3 linked regions of the Homo sapiens genome follow. The protein of the gene in region 1 interacts with the protein of each later gene in a biochemical or structural test. Each region holds a gene or a part of one and is shown on either strand. Other genes may lie near its edges.

Region 1 (7,231 bases):
CCTGTAATCCCAGAACTTTGGGAGGCCGGAGCAGATGGATTACCTGAGGTTAGCAGTTTGAGACCAGCCTGGCCAACATGGTGAAACCCCATCTCTACTAGAAAAAATATATATACAATAAATTAGCTGGGCGTGGTGGTGCATGCCTGTAAACCCAGCTACTCAGAATGCTGAGGCAGGAGAATTGCTTAAACCCAGGAGGAAGAGGCTGCAGTCAGCCGAGATCGCACCATTGCACTCCAGCCTGAGCAACAAGGCGAGACTCCGTTTCAAACAAACACGTGCATTACATCGATGTAGCTCATCTAATTTTAAATTTTAAGCTGTATCATGCTGCTTTCACAAATACACAGGTACTATTTACTTCCCATGTTACCAAAAAGCAAACAAAAGTATAGCTAATAGTAAAATTAAAACTAATTAATAGGCTGGGCACTGTGGCTCACACCTGTAATCCCAGCACTTTGGGAGGCCAAGGTGGGCGGATTGCCTGGGGTCAGGAGTTTGAGACCAGTCTGGACAACATGATGAAAACCTGTCCCTACTAAAAAAAAAAAAAAAAATACAAAAAAAATATATATATACAAAAAAATTTGCTGGGCGTGGTGGCATGCACCTGTAATCCCAGCTACTCAAGAGGCTGAGGCAGAGGAATTGCTTGAACCAGGGAGGTGGAAGTTGCAGTGAGCCGAGATCATGCCCTTGCACTCCAGCCTGGGCAAAGAAGCGAGAGACTCAGTCTCAAAAAAAAAAAAAAACAAACAAACCCAGGCGCAGTGGCTCACACCTGTAATCCCAGCAATTTGGGAGGCCGGATCACGAGGTCAAGAGATCAAGACCATCCTGGCCAATATGGTGAAACCCCGTCTCTACTAAATATACAAAAAATTAGCTGGGCATGGTGGCACGCGCCTGTTGTCCCAGCTACTCAGGAGACTGAGGCAGGAGAATCGCTTGAGCCCGGGAGGCGGAGGTTGCAGTGAGCCGAGATCGCGCCACTGCACTCCAGCCTGGGTGACAGAGCAAGACTGCGTCTCAAAAAAAAAAAAAAAAAAAACTAGTAGATGGGAACGGTGGCTCACCCCTGTAATCCAGCACTTTGGGAGGCTGAGGCGGGTGGATCACCTGAGGTGAGGAGGGTGCAGTGAGCCAAGATCATGCCACTGCACTCCAGCCTGGGCAATGCAGCGAGACTCCATCTCAAAAAAAAAAAAAAAATACAGACTCCCTATGTACAATATGCTAATAATTTATCAGTAATCTTTATAATTTATATTCAACTTCCAAAACAACTAAAAGTGATTAACAAAAAGTATTTGCCATTAATATCATCTAACCTTTGGTCTTTTCAAAATATTAACATACACTCATGTATAGTGTTATGAAAAAATTGTGTTTAATAATGCAACCCACAAAAGGAAAATGAAAAGTATTAAATTAAAATGCATTATTTTATTACTAAATTTTCAAAAATCTATAAGAGGTCCTAAGCACAACTGTTATAAAGATATGGCCCCGTTAACGAGCACAGATTAGATTTCAGCAAGCACAGTAAAGTCATAACACTAAAATTCCACTTTTAAAACAATCCTTGCCTTACTAGCTAGCTGACCCAAGTATGTATACTACCCCAACACTAGAACTGCTAAAGATCTTAAAACCTATGACACCTATATGTAATAAAGATGTAAAAGACACCACTTAATTAAAATGTATGCAGAATGTATCCTGAGGTATTACTCTAAAGCAACAATTACAACATATATTCAAAGCCTTCCATTTCAGTACATATAGATTTGAAAATTCATTTTATTATGCAATGATGGCATAAACTATTAAATCACACTGCTCTATACTCTTGTTTCAACGAAGACTAGGAAAAGGCAGATCAGGCCGAGCGCGGTGGCTCACACCTGTAATTCCAGCACTCTGGGAGGCCGAAGTGGGCGGATCACCTGAGGTCAGGAGTTCGAGACCAGTCTGGCCAACATGACAAAACCCCGTCTCTACTAAAAATACAAAAATTAGCCGGGCCTGGTGGCACGCGCCTGTAATCCCAGCTACTTGGGAGGCTGAGGCAGGAGAATCACTTGAACCTGGGAGGTGGAGGTTGCAGTGAGCCGAGATCACACCACTGCATTCCAACTGGGCAACAGGGTGAGCCTCTGACTCAAAAAAAAAAAAAAAAAGAAAAGAAAAGAAAAAGGCAGATCACACGGGTTAACATTTTTAAATGTAAACTAAAGCTTAACGTTTTTAACATTTCTGAAATGGTCTAATGTCTAAAACCTCAACGTTAATACTTGTGTGCTCACAGGAAACCAAACATTGTATTCAGTAGGAAAGAGGAGTTGAACAGCTTATCTAAGAAACCACTTGTTCTTCAATTAGCTTTCATCTTGCTCTGGTCTTTTATTTTGTTTGCACTGCAGTTTTCCTCATAAATAATAAAAAGATCACACGTATTCAGTCAGGTAAGAAAGATCCTCTCGCTCTTATTTTAAGGAGCAATCGTCCTCTACTCCCCAACCCATGTCAAGGAGAGTCCAAAGGAATGGGACCCCTACTCTGATCCAGGACACCTCTTGGCCTGACCCATCTTCGGTGCCGGTTGGCCTGACCCATCTTCGGTGCCGGAGGTTGACACCCGCCCACCTTGGGCCTCCTCGCCTCCCTCCCGTAGAGCCTTCAGCCTACAACTCGGACCCGCGCCCGCCGGAACCTACGGGGGCGCCCGCGCGGGAGCCACCCCGCCCCCAGCCCGCCGGCGCGCGGCCGACGCGCGAGCACGACCCGCCAACCCGACGGCCGCCGGGGCCTCGGCGCCGGTCCCACCCGGTCCCAGGCTACGCTCTGCGGAGAGCGCGGCATTCGAGACAGCGCACTCGGGCTTCTCCCGCACGGTCAGCGCTCGGGCGCCAGCAGCAGACGGAGGGGCAGAGCCGGGTCGGAGCGGAAAATCACGCAGCCCGGCCCGGGAACCGACCTGTGGAGACCGCCATCTTCTCCTGCAGCCCGACGCAGCCGCCCGCACGCACGCACGAACCGTCGCGCGTCACTTCCGGGAGCGCGCCGCCCTGCACGCGTCACAGCGGACTCCGCCCCCGGCGGGCGCGGGGCGACCCGAGGGACAGCGCGCACGTGGGCCGAGGGGTCGCGGGGCCTCGCTGCTGTTTCCGCAATTCCCTTGTGAATCCCGCTCTCAAAATGAAACGCTAAAGAATAAGTTCATGAGGGCCGGGCGCGGTGGCTCACGTCTGTAATCCCAGCACTTTGGGAGGCCGAGGCGATCGGATCACCCGAGGTCAGGAGTTCGAAACCAGCCTGGCCAACATGGCGAAACCCCGTCTCTACTAAAAATACAAAAATTAGCCGGACGTGGTGGCGCGCGCCTGTAATCCCAGCTATTTGGGAGGCTGAGGCACGAGAATCGTTTGAACCGGGGAGGCGGAGGGGCAATGAGCCGCGATTGCGCCACTGCACTCCAGCCTGGACAACAGAGCGAGACTCCGCCTCAAAAAAATAAATAAAAATAAGTGGGCATTGACAGATTTGCGTTGATAAACGATTCAAAAGAGTTGGACAATAAATTTGAACAGCTAGGGATGCTGAGGTGGGAGGGTCACGTGAGCCCAAGAGGTGAGGCTGCAGTGAGCAGAAATCGCTGCACTCCAGCCTGGGCAACAGAGGGAGACTCCATTTCAAAAAAAAAAAAGAAAGAAAGAAAAAGGAAAGTAATACAGGCTGGGCGCCGAAGCTCACTTCTGTAATCCTAACACTTTGGGAGGCTGAGGCAGGAGGATGGCTTGAACCCAAGACTTTGAGACCAGCTTGGACAACATAGTGATACCTAGTCTCTACATAAAACTGAAAAAAAAAAAAAAAAAAGATTTTTCACATCCCTTGTAGGTTGTATTCCTAGGTATTTTTATTCTCTTTGTAGCAATTGTGAATGGGAGTTCACTCATGATTTGGCTCTCTGTTTGTCTGTTATTAGTGTATAGGAATGCTTGTGATTTTTGCACATTGATTTTGTATCCTGAGACTTTGCTGAAGTTGCTTGTCAGCTTAAGAAGATTTGGGGCTGAGACTATGGGGTTTTCTAAATATACAATCATGTCATCTGCAAACAGAGACAATTTGACTTCCTCTTTTCCTAATTGAATACCCTTTATTTCTTTCTCTTGCCTGATTGCCCTGGCCAGAACTTCCAATACTATGTTGAATAGGAGTGGTGAGAGAGGGCATCTTTGTCTTGTGCCGGCTTTCAAAGGGAATGCTTTTGGCCGGGCATGGATCCCAGCACTTTGGGAGGCGGAGGCGGGCGGATCACGAGGTCAGAAGATCAAGACCATCTTGGCTAACACAGTGAAACCCTGTCTCTACTAAAAAAAAAAAAATACAAAAAATTAGCCAGGCATGGTGGCAGGCCCCTGTAGTCCCAGCTACTCGGGAGGCTGAGGCAGGAGAATGGCGTGAACCCGGGAGTTGGAGCTTGCAGTGAACCGAGATGGCGACACTGCACTCCACCCCAGCCTAGGGGACAGAGCGAGACTCCATCTCAAAATAAAAAAAAATAAAAAATAAAAAGAATCCTTCATTCCAGTTTTCGCCCATTCAGTATGATATTGGCTGTGGGTTTGTCGTAAATAGCTCTTATTATTTTGAGATACATTCCATCAATGCCTAGTTTATTGAGAGTTTTTAGCATGAAGGGCTGTTGAATTTTGTCGAAGCCTTTTCTGCATCTATTGAGATAATCATGTGGTTTTTGTCATTGGTTCTGTTTATGTGATGGATTACATTTATTGATTTGCATATGTTGAAGCAGCCTTGCATCCCAGGGATGAAGCCGACTTGATCTTGGTGGATAAGCTTTTTTGATGTGCTGCTGGATTCGGTTTGCCAGTATTTTATTGAGTATTTTCGCATCAATGTTCATCAGGGGTATTGAGCCCACGTAGCCAAGGCAATCGTAAGCAAAAGGAACAAAGCTGGAGGCATCACACTACCTACCTGACTTCAAACTATACTGCGAGGCTACAGTAAAAAAAATTGCCTAGTACTGGTACCAAAACAGATATATAGATCAATGGAACAGAACAGAGGCCTCAGAAATAACTCCACATATCTACAACCATCTGATCTTTGACAAACCTGACAAAAACAAGCAATGGGGAAAGGATTCCTTATTTAATAAATGGTGTTGGGAAAACTGGGTAGCCATATGCAGAAAGCTGGAACTGGATCCCTTCCTTACACCTTATACAAAAATTAACTCAAGATGGATTAAAGACTTAAACGTAAGACCTAAAACCATAAAAACCCTAGAAGAAAACCTAGGCAATACCATTCAGGATGTAGGCATGGGCAAAGACTTCATGACTAAAACACCAAAAGCAATGGCAACAAAAGCCAAAATTGACAAATGGAATCTGATTAAACTAAAGAGCTTCTGCACAGCAAAAGAAACTACCATGAGAGTGAACAGGCAACCTATAGAATGGGAGAAAATTTTTGCAATCTATCCATCTGACAAAGGGCCAATATATAGAATCTACAAAGAACTTAAACAGATTTACAAGAAAAAAATAAGTCCATCAAAAAGTGGGCAAAGGATATGAACAGACACTTCTCAAATGAAGACATTTATGCAGCCAACAAACATGAAAAAAAGCTCATCATCACTGGTCATTAGGGAAATGCAAATCAAAACCACAATGAGCTACCATCTCACACCAGGTAGAATGGTGATCATTAAAAAGTCAGGAAACAACAGATGCTGGAGAGGATGTGGAGAAATAGGAATGCTTTTACACTGTTGGTGGGAGTATAAATTAGTTCAACCATTGTGGAAGACAGTGTGGCGATTCCTCAAGGATCTAGAACTAGAAATACCATTTGACCCAGCAATCCCATTACTGGGTATATACCCAAAGCATTATAAATCATTCTACTATAAAGACACATGCACATGTATATTTATTGTGGCACTGTTCACAATAGCAAAGACTTGGAACCAACCCAAATGGCCATCAGTGATAGACTGCATAAAGAAAATGTGGCAAATATACACCATGGAATACTATGCAGCCATAAATTAGGATGAGTTCATGTCCTTTGCAGGAACATGGATGATGCTGGAAACCGTCATTCTCAGCAAACTATCACAAGAACAGAAAACCAAACACCTCATGTTCTCACTTATAAGTGGGAGTTGAACAGTGAGAACACATGGACACAGGGAGGGGAACATCACACACTGGGGCCTGTCAGGGGTTGGGGGCTAGGGGAGGGATAGCATTAGGAGAAATACGTAATGTAGATGACAGGTTGATGGGTGTAGCAAACCACCATGGCACGTGTATACCTCTGTAACAAACCTGCATGTTCTGCCCCTGTTCCCCAGAATTTAAATTAAAAAAAAAAAAAAAGGAGAAAAAGTAGTTAAGAGAAAAAAAAAAAAGCTGGCATTCTGGTTCGTGCCTGTAGCCTCAACTACTCAGGAGGATGAGATGGGAGGATCACTTGAGCCAGGAGGTTAAGGCTTCAGTGAGTTATGATGGCACCACTGTAATACAGCCTGGGCAACAGAATGAGACACTGTCTTAAAAAAAAAAATGCAGGGGGCCAGGTGCGGTGGCTCACGCCTGTAATCCCAACACTTCAGGAGGCCAAGGCAGGTGGATCACAAGGTCGGGAATTCAATACCAGCCTGGCCAAAATGGTGAAACCCTCCCTCTACTAAAAATAGAAAAATTAGCCAGGTATGGTGGCGGCCACCTGTAATCCCAGCTACTTGGGAGGCTGAGGCAGAGAATTGCTTGAACCCAAGAGGCGGAGGTTGCAGTGAGCTGAGATCACACCACTGCACTCCAGCCTGGATGACAAGAGCGAGACTCTGCCTCAAAAAAAAAACAAAAAAACAAAACAAAAAAAAAAAACAGAAGAGGAAATAAAGAAGAATCATAATATACTATCCTTATCTACTCTCAAGCCACTGTAACTTGACAAGCCAAAATGAGACTGTTTTTCTCACAAAGGGACCTGACACAATAACCTAACTGAAATTTCTTACCAGTGCAGAGAAAAACTCTAATATTATCATCAAATTATTAAACTTTCCCCAAGTTTGTCTGCTGAGTTCTAGTGACCTCAGCATTATATACTTAGCAACAGCCTCTAGCTGACCTATCCTAAATATCAATATTTCTTAAACACCACATTTATT
Region 2 (7,026 bases), on another chromosome or scaffold:
GTTTTTCATTCCTATTTGATGAACATGAGCCCATGGCTGCTTATTTTGTATGTGTTACCTGCCACCATCAAGTAATCATTCAAAGTTAATTTGAAGATTTAAAGGGTTTGCTGAGATCTAGTCCCGCAATATCACGACATTTTTATGGTGTTTTACAAAATTATTTCCCTCATATGGTTTTATTTGCGTTGGGTAGGCTTTATTTATTATCCCTATTTTACCAGTGATTATAAAGCTAGTCTGATACCAAAGCATATATACATTTAGGTAAGACTCAGAGAGAAAACATGGTTCTTACACTGCATTAAGCAGCTGGTTTGTCTCTTAATATAGTAGTTAAATATACTCTATCAGGTTCCACAGAAATGGTGCCTTTGCTCGATAGGCAAGTGCTAACGGTCTTGCCTTTTACAAGGCCACTTTATCATCAAGGTAGGAGGAGGAGGTACTCTGAACCTGCCTGACCTATGGGAAGGCCCTGGTTGTGGTTAGAGACCTTGATTGAAATTAATGGTGTGCGTACTCCAACCTCTCAGGTTTTTCTTTTATACTTCAAATATCTGGAAGTTGTGAAAACCTGCTGCCCTGGTGGAGTATCAAACCAGGCTGGTGAGTGAAAGCGGTCATCCCAAAATGGAGTAAGCTGAGTGTTAAGGGCAGAAAACCTTTTACAGTTATAGTAAGTAATTAACTTTTTAGATCACTTCACAACTTTTGGAGTGCTAAAATGCCATATTTGGGACTATGAGAAATTCCATTATAAAAAGCTGAACCATTAGAGCTAGGAAATAATCTCTGTTAGATATTGGCATATGGTGTTCAATTTTGGGTCTCTCATACTTGAGAGGATAATTAAAATGATTAAAAGGTTGAAAAACAGGTCTTATCATTATAAGTTTTAAAAAGGGGGGAAAGATTTTAGCCTAGAGAAAGAAAAGCTAAGAGATAACTTCATTATCATCTTCAAATACAAGAATAGTTTTGCCAGGGGGATTTTTATTAATTATTCTTCATGAACTTCAAAGATTTAAGAGGAAATGGTCTTAAATTGAAGGAGGAGCAATTTTGATGAATACGAGAAAGAATTTTTTGATCATCAAAGTGGGGAAATGTTTGAATGACTGCCCAAGAGAGTGTTGAATTTCTGACTGTTTCAGTTGTCTATTGTGTGACAAATTACCCGAAGACTTTTGGTGGCATAACATGACAACCATTTTATTGCCTATGATTTTGTGGGTTAGTAATTCAGGAAAGGAGGACATATTTTTTTTTGTCCCATATGATGCTGATTGAGCTGGAGGATCCAAGAAGGCTGCACATGTCTGTACCTTTGGAGCTAGCTGTTGGCTGGGATATCTTGGTTCTCTGTGAGTTCTCTTTCTTGGTCTCTCATCACTTATAAACCTATATCGAGTGGCCGAGCGCAGTGGCTCATGCCTGTAATCTCAGCACTTTGGGAGGCCGAGGTGAGTGGATCACCTGAGGTCGGGAGTTCCAGACCAGCCTGACCAACATGGTGAAACCCCGTCTCTACTAAAAATACAAAAATTAGCTGGGTATGGTGGTGGGCACCTGTAATCCCACCTACTTGGGAGGCCGAGGCAGGAGAATTGCTTGAACATGGGAGGCGGAGGTTGCAGTGAGCCAAGATTGTGCCATTGCACTCCAACCTGGGTGACAGAGCGAGACCGTCTCAAAAAAAAAAAAAAAAAAAAATTCTAGCTCGAGCTTCTTTTACATGGTGGCTGGGCCATAATGGAAGCTGCAGGATCTCATAAGACCTAGGCCTGGCAGTCATACATCATCACTTTTGCCCCATTCTTTTTGTCAGAGTAAGTCACAATTATAGCCCAGATACAAGAGGAGGGGACATTGACTTCACCTCTAAAGGATAGAGGGTAAAAATCACATTGCAAAAGGGCATGCAATGTGATTGGGATTATTACTACCAACTTTATTTTTTGAAACAGAGTCTCGCTCTGTCACCCAGGCTGGAGTGCAGTGGCGCAATCTCGGCTCACTGCAACCTTTGCCTCCCGGGTTCAAGTGATTCTCTTGCCTCAGCCTCCTGAGTAGCTGGGATTACAGTTGCTTGCCACCACGCCTGGCTAATTTTTGTATTTTTAGTAGATACGGGGTTTCACCATGTTGGTCAGGCTGGTCTTGAACTCCTGACCTTATGATCTGCCCGCCTTGGCCTCCCAAAGTGCTGGGATTACAGGCGTGAGCCACCGCACCTGGCCTACCACCAATTTTAGATACAATTTACCACACTGACCTTAGAGATTTTTCATGAAAGAATAATCAATATATGTTTATTAAATGGGTAGTTTGGGCATATGATTTACAAATTTGGCTGCATATAGAGTCATCTGGGAGCTTTTTACAAGCATAAGCTCCTAGGTACCAGACCAGTGACTCAGTGTCTCCTGGGGGTGTTGTGTTGGCACATAAGAGACACTCTATGTCCTTTCTTTCAGGTAACTATCAGTAAAATGAGTATGGTGGGGGGGGATAGATAGATATAATATGTAAGGCAAGATGATATGTACATTGAGATAGATCTCATCTCTCCTGCTTCTAGGACTTGATTGAATCCTATCTAGCATGCTCTTCTTTCCAGTCTGCCTAGTGTAAATTATATTTCATTAAATCAGCCCATCATCAGAACAGTGTTTCTTGATGCCTCTCATTTTTTTCTCATGTTTTCTGGCATTTTTCCTTCATTACTTTTTTTTTAGTTCATAATTCAATATTTATATGATTGTTTGATGTATAATAGACAAAAATACATCTGCTTTGCTTTCGAGTATCTAACATAGTGTCTGCCTCATAAAAGGCACTCAGTAAGTACTTGTTGAATGAATAAGTGGTTGATTGAATGCATGATTGAATGAAGTGATATTTGAATTTAGCTTTAAAGGTGATTGGAATTTTGGACAGGTAGAGCAAATGAATGGGAAATTTATTGTTCTGAAGTGGAAACTGGATCATATTGCTCATGTAATTTCAGAAAACTGGAGAAACTGGTTTGGGAAAATGGAAGAGTTGGTTTTATATCTAGTATGCTAAGTTTGAGGTATGGAAATTTAGCAGGCATTTAGAAATGAAGCACTGATCTGAAGGGTGAGATTGATTCCAGATATTCACTTTTGGGAGTTACCTGACTGGAGAATGTGAAATCTGTTCCTTTCACAAATACCTGGTAAGCTCCTACTGTGTGCCAGACAGCTATGTTATAGGGAAGGTGAACTGCAGTCTGAGAAGGAGCCAGTCTTGTGAAAAGAGCTAGGGAGAATGTTTCAGCCAGAAAAGGAACCCAAGTTTGTAGGCCCTGGGGCAATAAATAATTTATAATTTTTGAGGAATTGAAGGAAGGTGACCGAAGGACAGAGCAAGGTGAGTGAAGTGGGAGAGCTGCATGAGGTAAAGTGGAAAAGGCAAGCAGAGCCCACATCACATGGGGACTTTGTGGGCTAGATAGTGAGTCTAGCCTTCACTCAAAAGTGTGGTGGGGCTGGGCATGGTGGCTCACACCTGTAATCCTAGCACTTTGGGAGGCTGAGGCAGGTGGATCACCTGAGGTCAGGAGTTTGAGACCAGCCTGGTCAACGTGGTGAAACCCCATCTCTACTAAAAATATAAAAAATTTTAGCCAGGCATGGTGGCTTATGCCTGTAATCCGTGCTACTCGGGAGGCTGAGGCAGGAGAATTGTTGGAACCCGGGAGGTGGATGTTGCAGTGAGCCGAGGTTGCACCACTGTACTCCAGCCTGGGTAACAAAAGTGAAAACTCTGTCTCAAAAAAAAAGAAAAAGAAAAAAAAAAAGGGTGGTGGGACACCATTGAAGGCTTAAAACAGAAAGTGACAAGCAAAGATTCTTTTTCTAAATAAAAGGTTACCCTGGCTACTCTGTAGAGAATAGAGAGTCACAAAGAAGGGACCAGTAAGGAAGTGTTTGTCTCCCTTCTTGAGAAGGATCATCGCAGATAGGGCAGGATATGGCAGTGGACATAGAACGGGATAGTTGCAGGATGCATTTAAAAAGTAGAACCAGGCTGGGCATGGTGGCTCACGCCTGTAATCCCAGCACTTTGGGAGGCTGAAGTGGGCAGATCACCTGAGGTCAGGAGTTTGAGACCAGCCTGACCAACATGGAGAAATCCCGTCTCTACTAAAAATACAAAATTAGCCGGGCGTGGTGGTGCATGCCTGTAATCCCAGCTACTCAGAAGGCTGAGGCAGGAGAATCATTTGAACCCAGGAGGCGGAGGTTGTGGTGAGCCGAGATCATGCCACTGCATTCCAGCCTGGGCAACAGAGCAAAACTTTGTCTCAAAAAAAAAAAAAAAAAAAAGTAGAAGTAAAATTCACTAGAGAAGGAAAGGAAGAAGGAAGAGTATGGAGTACAGAACCCTAGGGCCTATGTAGGGGGCAAAAGAAGGAACCAGGGAAGGAAAATAAGGGAGCAAGAGTGGTCATTGATGTCAAAGGTAAGTCAGGCTACCACGCTTGCAGTGGGAGCCAGTGTGGGAGAAGGAGTCTGTAAGGGGAATTCAAGTGTATCCAGAGTAAGTGTGCTGTCTGATGTGTGGCAAGTCAATACCCAAGACCTGGGGGCGGGGTTTATTTGTTGGGCTGCAGAATGAGGAGATGAGAGGGAACTGCAAATCCGTCCTCCTGAGGAGTTTGGAGCTAGGGTTTTTAAGGATTTTGGAGTGGGCTGGAATGTGGAGATTGTTGGGTGGTCAGAGAGAGAAAGGTGAAGTAATGGGACCCGGAGATGAAAAAACTGTATTATGCTGATTTTATTTCTCTCTGAGGGTCTTCAAACTGGTTGGCATCAGCTGTTTTACCAGAATTTGGGATCTGAAAAATATCTCAAGCAATTCTTAAAAAAAAAGCCTTATGCTTCTAATGTCAGAGATACTATCTTTAGAAACAATAGGGATGCAAATGGTCAGTATCTAGCGCTGTGTGACTTTCAGTTACAAGGAAATGTGTCAAAATCCAGCCTGATTAATGTTTTTTTTTTGTTTGTTTGTTTGTTTGTTTTTTTTTGAGATGGAGTTTTGCTCTTGTGGCCCAGGCTGGAGTGCAATGGCATGATCTCGGCTCACTGCAACCTCTGCCTCCTGGGTTCAAGTGATTCTCCTGCCTCAGCCTCCTGAGTAGCTAGACTACAGGTGTGTGCCACCACACCTGGCTAATTTTGTATTTTTAGTAGAGATGGGTTTTCACCGTTTTGGCCAGGCTGGTCTCAAACTCCTGACCTCAGGTGATCCGCCCACCTTGGCCTCCCAAAGTGCTGGGATTACAGGTGAGCCATCGCACCTGGCCTAATGCTTAATTAAAGTTATATTTCTGTCCATAGTTCTTGGTAACCCTCTGAAGACAGCTTCATAATGAAGAATTTGGGTAGGTTTTGGGTGCATGGGGCTTCAGGGAGTCATGAAGGTTGAGGACATAGGAAAGAATCACACATTTATCCATCAGAAGATCATTGGTGACCATTGGCCGGGCGCTGTGGCTCACGCCTGTAATCCCAGCACTTTGGGAGGCCGAGGCAAGTGGATCACGAGGTCAGGAGATCGAGACCATCTTGGCTAACACGGTGAAACCCCGTGTCTACTAAAAATACAAAAAAATTGGCCAGGCGTGCTGGTGGGCACCCGTAGTCCCAGCTACTCAGGAGGCTGAGGCAGGAGAATGGCGTGAACCCGGGAGGTGGAGCTTGCAGTGAGCCAAAATCGCGCCACTGCACTCCAGCCTGGGCAACAAAGCAAGACTCAATCTCAAAAAAAAAAAAAAAGCTGTTGGATCGGTGTTTACTAAGCACCTACTCTAAGCCTGTCACTGTGTTAGTGTTAAGGATTTGTGTGAATGACCTCTTTTAGGTACTTCATTTTACAGATGAGAAAAATGACGCTTAGGGAATTAATCACCTTAACAGGTCACACAGAAAGAAGACTATGAGTTCTGTCTGACCCAGGCCCCATGCTCCTAAACCTTGCATGACACTGCTCTTTGGAAAGCCCTATCAGGACATCAGCTAGAGAGGAATGAAAGGTTTTTAGAGCCCAGTGATGGCTTACCCCAGCTGTATGAATTTGTTAGCAACCCAGTTAAATAAAGTCTTCTGATTTTTCTATAGTAATCTGGCAGTTTAGGAATGGAGAGGTGGGGGAGGGAGGGGAAGATAAAAGATAGAGTAAGAGTTCAGTAAATTAGAAAGGGGATTATTTTGTTGTTCATAAGTGTAATGATTGGATTTTCATGCACATGTATGAGATGTGCCTCCATCAAGCCTTGTTACTACAAAGTCAGTGCATTACCCATCTGATGTGGGAAAAATAAATCAGAAAGAGGCCTCAGCTTGTGGGAATGGTGGAATGCAATGGCTTGTGTTGTTAAGCAAAATTGTGTTTTACAGTAAATATTTATTGTGGTTCTTTTGATGCAAGTTATATTGGGATATGGAGGAAAATGCAAAAATGGATAAGATGGTGTATTTGACCTCTACACGGTTAGAGAGGAAGGTAAAGTGCTTCACTATAGTGCTTGATTGAAGGGTATGACAGGGGTGGAAGGTGGAGAAGTATGGGAAAGTATTATACAAGTTAGCTTGTAGAGCGAGGGTGGCATTAGGTAGGGCTGGCCAGGGTGGTGCCAATCTAGCTTCTCAGGATGACCCCTCAGGATTTTGGTCACTGTGTCGTCAGTCTAGTCTTGGGTCACAAAATGTATTTTGTGGAGAACCTGGAAATAATTAGTCTTGAAGACAGGATTGTATTCAGACTTGAGTGATTGAGCTCAGAATGGAATGCCAATTTATTATTTTAGAATGAAGGATTCCTTTTCCGTTAACGGGATTCTGGAATTTGTTAGGATAATTGCTTTTCAATATCAAGAGATCTGGCAATCAAATTTAATAATATCAAGCTTGCTTGGTGAGCATGGATTTATAAGATAGAATGGTTTGTGGGGGAGAATATAGTTACAAAAAAGATTATTGTTTCCCATAA
Region 3 (6,919 bases), on another chromosome or scaffold:
ACACATGTGGTAGTGGCAAAGAATCTAATTTGTGTCACAAGATCTGAGTCTGAGTAAGCTCTTTTACCTATTAATTATGTGATCTTTTTGCTGGTTACATAGCTACTCTTAGCTTCACATTCTTCATATGAAAAAATGAGGACAACAGAACTAATACTGCAGCATAATGAGGAAGCTTAAATATTTTTATTCATTCAACAAATATGTTCTGAAAGGCGTTGTGTACAAATTACCCTTTTTTATTTCTTCAAATAAATCAAGCATATATTAACTTTTAATATTACCAAGAAAATATAAATCTAATTCTTAAGCTCTGGTTCCAAAACTTCTTAGAAGTAAATTTTTATTACCTGAGAAAATGTGAACTTAAGTAATAAGTATTGATACTGAAGAAGGGACAGTTGAGTTTGTGTCAAAACTTAAAACTGTTTTGACACAAAATAAATAAAAACAATTCCCTAAATTTTTTTCCTATTGAACAGAAATACGGACCCAGACTAAGCCCATAAATTGCTGGGTCAATAACCAATCTGAAATACAAAACCTTACCACTTAAAAATATTTATTTTCAGGAAAATGATATTAAATATGAGGTAAATCTGCCCTTGACATAACACGGTGAGATTGTTTTCATAACACAGCACATGAACCACTTAAAACTTACAACCTATAAATTACTACAATTGTTCTAATAGGTTTAGGGCCATACATAAATTTAAGTATCATTATAACACAGACTTTACTTGGAATCTGTGCTGACCTAACAAAATTAGCACAGAAAAAAAAAAAAAATCACAGATTTGAGCACCTGAAAAACGGTGTCCTTTCTGAAATATCTGCAAAAAAGTCACAACATCAGGAGCCATAGAAAGTTGTTATTTCTCCATCATTCAAAAAATCAAAACATCTCCAACATTATTTATGCTAAGCATAAAATGAAGGTCAGTATTGATATTCATTCACTATACTTCAAATCCTAAACAAGAAAATTCAACCTTTATGTTTATTCAATTGCTAATCTATTCAGTGTCAATTGTTGTGGAAGAACTAAGAACTAGACTAGTGCTGCTTATAATGTTTTTAATTAGAACAGACTTGGACCAATTCTACTTAGAAATTTACCCTTAGAAGAGGTGAAAGATATTAACTGGCATCTTTTCAGCACAGGTCAGTGCTGAAAAGAACACAACCTATAACCCTTAGGCCTTGCAGTTGAATGTTAACAAGTGAAAAGCAATCTCCTTGGATGTATCCAAGCGATTTTAATATAAATTTCTGCATACCTAGGTAGAAAGTACTTTAGAAATAAATCTACCTTTTCCCTCACTTGTAAGAAAATGTGGTAGAAGCCTTGAAAAATTAAGTTTAAGGCTGAGCGAGGTGGCTCACGCCTGTAATCCAAGCACTTTGGGAGGCGGAGGAGGGCAGATGACTTGAGGTCAGGAGTTCCAGACCAGCCTGGCCAACATGGTGAAACCCCGTCTCTACTAAAAATACAAAAATCAGCCGGGCATGGTGGCGGGCGCCTGTAATCCCAGCTACTCCGGATGGTGAGGCAGGAGAATCGCTTGAATCCGGGAGGTGGAGGCTGTAGTGAGCCGAGATTGTGCCACTGCAATCCAGCCTGGGTGACAGAGCAAGACTCCGTCGCAAAACAAAACAAAAACGAAATCAAATTTCAAACTCAGAGAAAAGACTGGTCTTGAACAATTTCAGGAAAAATTACTGAAACACGAGACAAGGCACAAGAAGCTCTATGGCCGGAGATGAACCACCTGTCTCCTTTCGAAGTGCTTCCTGAGGTCCACTTTATGCTAGTTAATGTTGCTTCTTATACTGCATGTTAGTAATTCAAAACGCCTAGCTGGAATAAAAGTCCTCTTTAAACATTACAGTTTGTCTCCGCGTTGCCAGTGTTTGTTTCCAGTTTCATAGGCTATTCTGGTATGTCAAGAGTTGTGTTATTACTGTTCCAAAAGAGCCCTTGTTTCAATCCACTCTCACCTGGGATGCGGGCATAACTGATGTTTATAGAACTGATACTTAGAGATGTTTAGAGAGGCGCATCCCTTACCACTCCATCCTTTACCGATAACCACATTTTATATGTTTTTGTTGCATTTAAGTTTTTTGTTTTTTTTTTTTAAAGACACCTGCACACACACAATTTTCCCATCGCCAGCAGGGAGAAGACTACCAGGCTAGATCTCCAGGGACTTCAGGGAAACAGACACCGTGAAATCCACTTGGCCAAAGAAGGGGAGCGCTTCAGGGGCTGGGGGAGGAAGCAGCCCTGAGGTGCTGGGAGGCCGAGGCGGCGCCTGTTTACAGACGCCTTCGCCCTCCCCCACCCCCACAGACTAGGGGTCCAAAAAGCAGTTCCCGTGCGCATTCCCCGCCTGGCCCAGGCCCTGGGAGTACCACAGGAGCCAGGTAGCCCTTTCGCCCCCTCCCTCTCGTCCGAGCCTCCCTTCGTCCTCCTCTCGGCCTACCTACCCCGACAGGCCCTACAGGCGGCATGCAGAGGCCTGAGGCCTAAAGGACGCCGGCCACTGACAAGCCCCAGAACAGCCGGCGGGGGCCCTGAGGAGCCTGGGGCCGGCCGGGCTGCCGCTGCCGCGGAGGAGCAGAGGGCGGGCGAGGACAAACCCTTCCCGACCACAGCTGCCTATTGTTCCCGACTGAGGCCCCGGCCGCGGCAGCCCCGCTCCCCAAGTCGCCGCCCGCCGCTCGCTCACCGCGCTGGTCCGAGCAGCAGCTCCTCTCAGCTCCGAGTCCCCGCGGCCGTCGCCACCGCCGCGGCAGCCGCCGCCGCCGCCGAGGCCACCGTTGACTCTGATTCTGTCCCAGGCCGCCGGGCCACGGCTGCCGCCGCCACCGCCAGCACCGCCTCCGGCCTCCCACCTGCTGCTGCTGAGGCTGCTCCTGCAGCAGGGGCCATCTTGTTGCTCGGCCTCCTCTTCCTCCTCCTCGTCCTCCGCCGCCCAGTCGCTCGTTGTCCTCGTCCCCTTCCTCTTCCTCAGGCTCCGGCCCGCCCCGGAGACTGGGGCGGAGACGAGGGCGAGGATCCTCCCTCAGGAGGCGGGGCGGGCGGAGGGGAGGGGCGGGCGCGGGAGCAAAGCTCTGAGTCACCGGCCACCAACGCCCGGAGGGAGACCGGCGACGCTCTCCGCCGCGACCGAAAGTCTCACACGCCCTGAGCAGATGAACCGGTCCCTCGGTCCGGTCTGCCCTCCCGCACCGGCGCCTTTGGGCTCAGCGGGCCAGTGGCCAGATGGCGAGAGTAAATTGGGGGAATTTCTTTCGTTTCCATCGAACCCCACACTACGTCTACTCTTTCGGCTTTCTCAGCCGTTGTCCCCCAACTCTTGTTTCTTTTTCACGTCTTGTCCCCCACCCCATTTTTCTTCTTCCATATTATCCAGGTTCTGGATCTCATCAGCTTTGTCCTCGTCACCCCTCTGGGAGTTCAGCCTCCTAAGGCTGTGAAACAGCCCAAAAGGCCCGGACACGCTACTCCAAAACGTCTCTCCTGGGCTGTGTGAACAATAAGAGCTATTTGGGGACGACAGGAAAAGATATGGCCCATAGAAGGGCTCCTGAAATCTAACCTTGCGACTCTTTAAAAGTTTCTTGTCCCTTGTGGAAAAGGTGCCGTTTTGGTTTTGGGGAATGGGAGGTCCCTTCAGACAATTCATTTTAGCCAAACCCTCGCTTTTGAGAAGGGGAAGAAATGGGATTATTGTAACACCATACAGTACTAATTTCAAAATAAATCATCTAGAATAGAGGAGAGAGAGAGTCCCCAAATAAACAACCATTTAATACCTCTACTCGGCGCTATCACCTTTTTTGCTTCAGGATTTGACCAAGAGAGCAGAGATTATGTTTTTCTGTCCTTTCTTCACTGTTTACATCACAGTACCCCAAGAGAAGCACTTCTGCCTTTAACTTGATACATTGGAATCGCTATCACAGATAGTGTTTTTGTATTATTTTTAAGAAATATCACACACCTTCCTAAACTCTTGGCAGAGAAGAATTCTTTTTAGTTGTTAGCACCCTCCTGCTACTGAGATCTCAGCTTCTGTTTAGAAGACCTATTGTTGTCTTTCCACTGATTGGAATTTGCTGCCTCTGAACTGGGTTTAATCTGTAATCGTCTTTTCAGCCTACTAAATAGTAACCCCAGTCCTACAGAGAGTGAATTTCTAGCTACCACAGGGGGATTTAGGTTAGCATGTGCCAATCTAAAGGGATCTCTTAAAGCCTTTCCCTTCTCAGACCAGGCCTCTGTACCCTGCTAGGAAAAACAGATTAATCTGCTCCTCCTGCTTTTCCTCCTCCTCCCTTCTTCTCACTCCTAGGGAACCTTCCACAACAGAAGGTTTTAGCGACTGTTGCTAGGCAAACATGCCAACTTCCTTGTTTAGGTGAAGCGAGTAACTCAACTTCCATTGCAAGTAACCTAGATAATGTAATTTCTTTGAACTATTAATAGTTATACCACAGTTGGTAAGGCTCCTTAAAGGTTCCCTTAAGCAGTATGATTTTTACGTTGTTTATTTTTATCTCGTCAATATTTCAATTAAAAATACGTTAAAGGACAGATAGATGCAGTGGCTCACGCCTGTAATCCCAACATTTTAGGAGGCTGAGGGGGGCGGATCACCTGAGGTCCGGAGCCTGACCAACGTGGAGAAACCCCATCTCTACTAAAAATACAAAAATTAGCCAGGTGTGGTGGCGTGCACCTATAGTCCTAGCTACTCGGGAGGCTGAGGCAGGAGAATCACTTGAACCTGGGAGGTGGAGGTTGTAGTGAGCCGAGATCACGCCATTGCACTCCAGTCTGGGCAAAAAGAGCTAAACTCTGTCTCAAAAAAAAAAAAAAAAAAAAAAAAAAAGTTAAAAATGGCGGCGCTTCCCCAAACCCAAATTCATTTTAGTGATATAAAGATGCATTTGACAGAAAAAGAAGAGCAGCTTTGAAGAAAACACTTATGCTTACAATAAAAAATAAAAAACTAATCTGTGAGAAGTCATATGTTTTCAACTCCCCAGTCAGACTAGAAGTGTAAGATACAGGGGATAAGGCCGGGAGCGGTGGCTCACGCTTGTAATCCCAGCACTTTGGGAGGCCGAGGCAGGCAGATCACGAGGTCAGGAGATGCAGACTATTCTGGCCAACATGGTGAAACCCCGTCTCTACCAAAAATACAAAAAGCCCGGCGTGGTGGCGCGCGCCTATAGTCCCAGCTACTCAGGAGACAGAGGCAGGAGAATCACTTGAACCTGAGAGGCAGAGGCTGCAGTGAGCCAAGATTGTACCACTGCACTCCAGCCTGGATGACAGCAAGACTCGGTCTTGGCAGAGCATTGTGGCCCACGCCTGTAATCCCAGCACTTTGGGAGGCTGAGGAGGGTGGCTCTCCTAAGGTCAGGAGTTCAAGACCAGCTTGGCCAACATGGTGAAACCCCGTCTCTACTAAAAATACAAAAAAATTAGCTGGGCGTGGTGGCAGGCACCTGTAATCCCATCTACTAGGGAGGCTGAGGCAGGAGAATCCTTTGAACCTGGGAGGCGGAGGTTGCAGTGAGCCGAGATCGTGCCATTGCACTCCAGCCTGGGCAACAAGAATGAAACTCCGTCTCAAAAAAAACACCAAAAATTAGCTGGGCATGGTGGTGCACGCTTGTAATCCCAGCTACTTGGGAGGCTGAGACAGGAGAATCGCTTGAACCTGGTAGGTGGAGGTTACAGTGAGCCGAGATCACGCCACTGCACTCCAGCCTGGCGACAGAGCAAGACTCCATCTCAAAAAAGAAAAAAAGAAAAAAAAAAGATACAGAGGATAATTTATCTCTTGAAATTGAGTCTATTTAAAATAAAGATAATATGAATATTCAGCAAGGGGGAAAAAAGATATTCTGGGTTTTATTCCTAAATTAACAATTATTTGAAAATTTAGCTAGGGAAATAAGCTTTTTTTAAAAATTTTATTTAAAATGTTTTTACTCTTGTTAGAGTATTGAGATTTGTTGTGAATTAATACAAATAAGATTAAATGAGGCTGAGCATGGCAGCTCATGCCTGTAATCCTAGCATTTTAGGAGGCTGAGGCAGGAGGATTGCTTGAGGCCAAGAGTTCAAGACCACCTGGCCAACATAGAAGACCTTGTCTCCATTTAATTAAAAAAAAATTTTTATAAAAGATTAATGACGCCAGGCAAGGTGGCTCACATCTGTAATCCCAGAACTTTGGGAGGCCGAGGCAGGCGGATCACCTGAGGCCAGGAGTTCGAGCCCAGCCTGGCCAACATGGCAAAGCCCCATCTCTACTAAAAATACAAAAATTGGCTGGATATGGTGGTACATGCCTGTAATCTCAGCTACTCAGGAGGCTGAGGCAGGAGAATTGCTTGAACCCGGGAGACGGAGGTTGCAGTGAGCCGAGATCACGCCACTGCACTCCAGCCTGGGTGACAGAGCAAGACTCTGTCTCAAAAAAAAAAAGATTAATGAGACACTATGTTGAAATTTAAATTATATAGATTTAAACTTCAGAACTCTTAAAATTTGTTTTAATCCACTGAAACTCATATTAATACACTGAAATAGTGTTTGAGAAGTGTCTTGAGCTTAGATTATATGTTAATTAAGAGTATATTACTTAAGATAAACAGCTTATATGTTTCATAGCCATTTGTGCTCAGAAATCACTATTTTGCTCACACCTGTAATCTCAGCACTTTGGGAGGCTGAGGTGGGCGGATCGCTTTGAGCTCAGTTGTTCCAGACCAGCCTGAGCAACACGGCAAAACCCCATCTCTACAAAAAGTACAAAAATTACCTGGGTATTGGTGGCTCATGCCTGTAGTCCCAGCTACTCAGCTACTCAGAAGGTTGAGGTGGAAA

Evidence for each region.
Region 2: the proteins of UBE2V2 (region 1) and RFFL form a complex in vitro, tested with the Homo sapiens proteins (one study listed by BioGRID).
Region 3: the proteins of UBE2V2 (region 1) and RC3H1 form a complex in vitro, tested with the Homo sapiens proteins (one study listed by BioGRID).

The regions. Positions count from the first base shown.
Region 1 is NC_000008.11:48,004,226-48,011,456, reverse strand, and holds the start of UBE2V2 (ubiquitin-conjugating enzyme E2 variant 2), read right to left. Parts: upstream 3,027-7,231; 5' UTR 3,003-3,026; coding exon 2,987-3,002; intron 1-2,986. UniProt on the Homo sapiens protein: Has no ubiquitin ligase activity on its own. The UBE2V2/UBE2N heterodimer catalyzes the synthesis of non-canonical poly-ubiquitin chains that are linked through 'Lys-63'. This type of poly-ubiquitination does not lead to protein degradation by the proteasome.
Region 2 is NC_000017.11:35,053,708-35,060,733, reverse strand, and holds part of RFFL (E3 ubiquitin-protein ligase rififylin), read left to right. Parts: intron 1-6,239; exon of another isoform or gene 6,240-6,346; intron 6,347-7,026.
Region 3 is NC_000001.11:174,019,358-174,026,276, forward strand, and holds the start of RC3H1 (roquin-1), read right to left. Parts: upstream 3,001-6,919; 5' UTR 2,739-3,000; intron 1-2,738. UniProt on the Homo sapiens protein: Post-transcriptional repressor of mRNAs containing a conserved stem loop motif, called constitutive decay element (CDE), which is often located in the 3'-UTR, as in HMGXB3, ICOS, IER3, NFKBID, NFKBIZ, PPP1R10, TNF, TNFRSF4 and in many more mRNAs.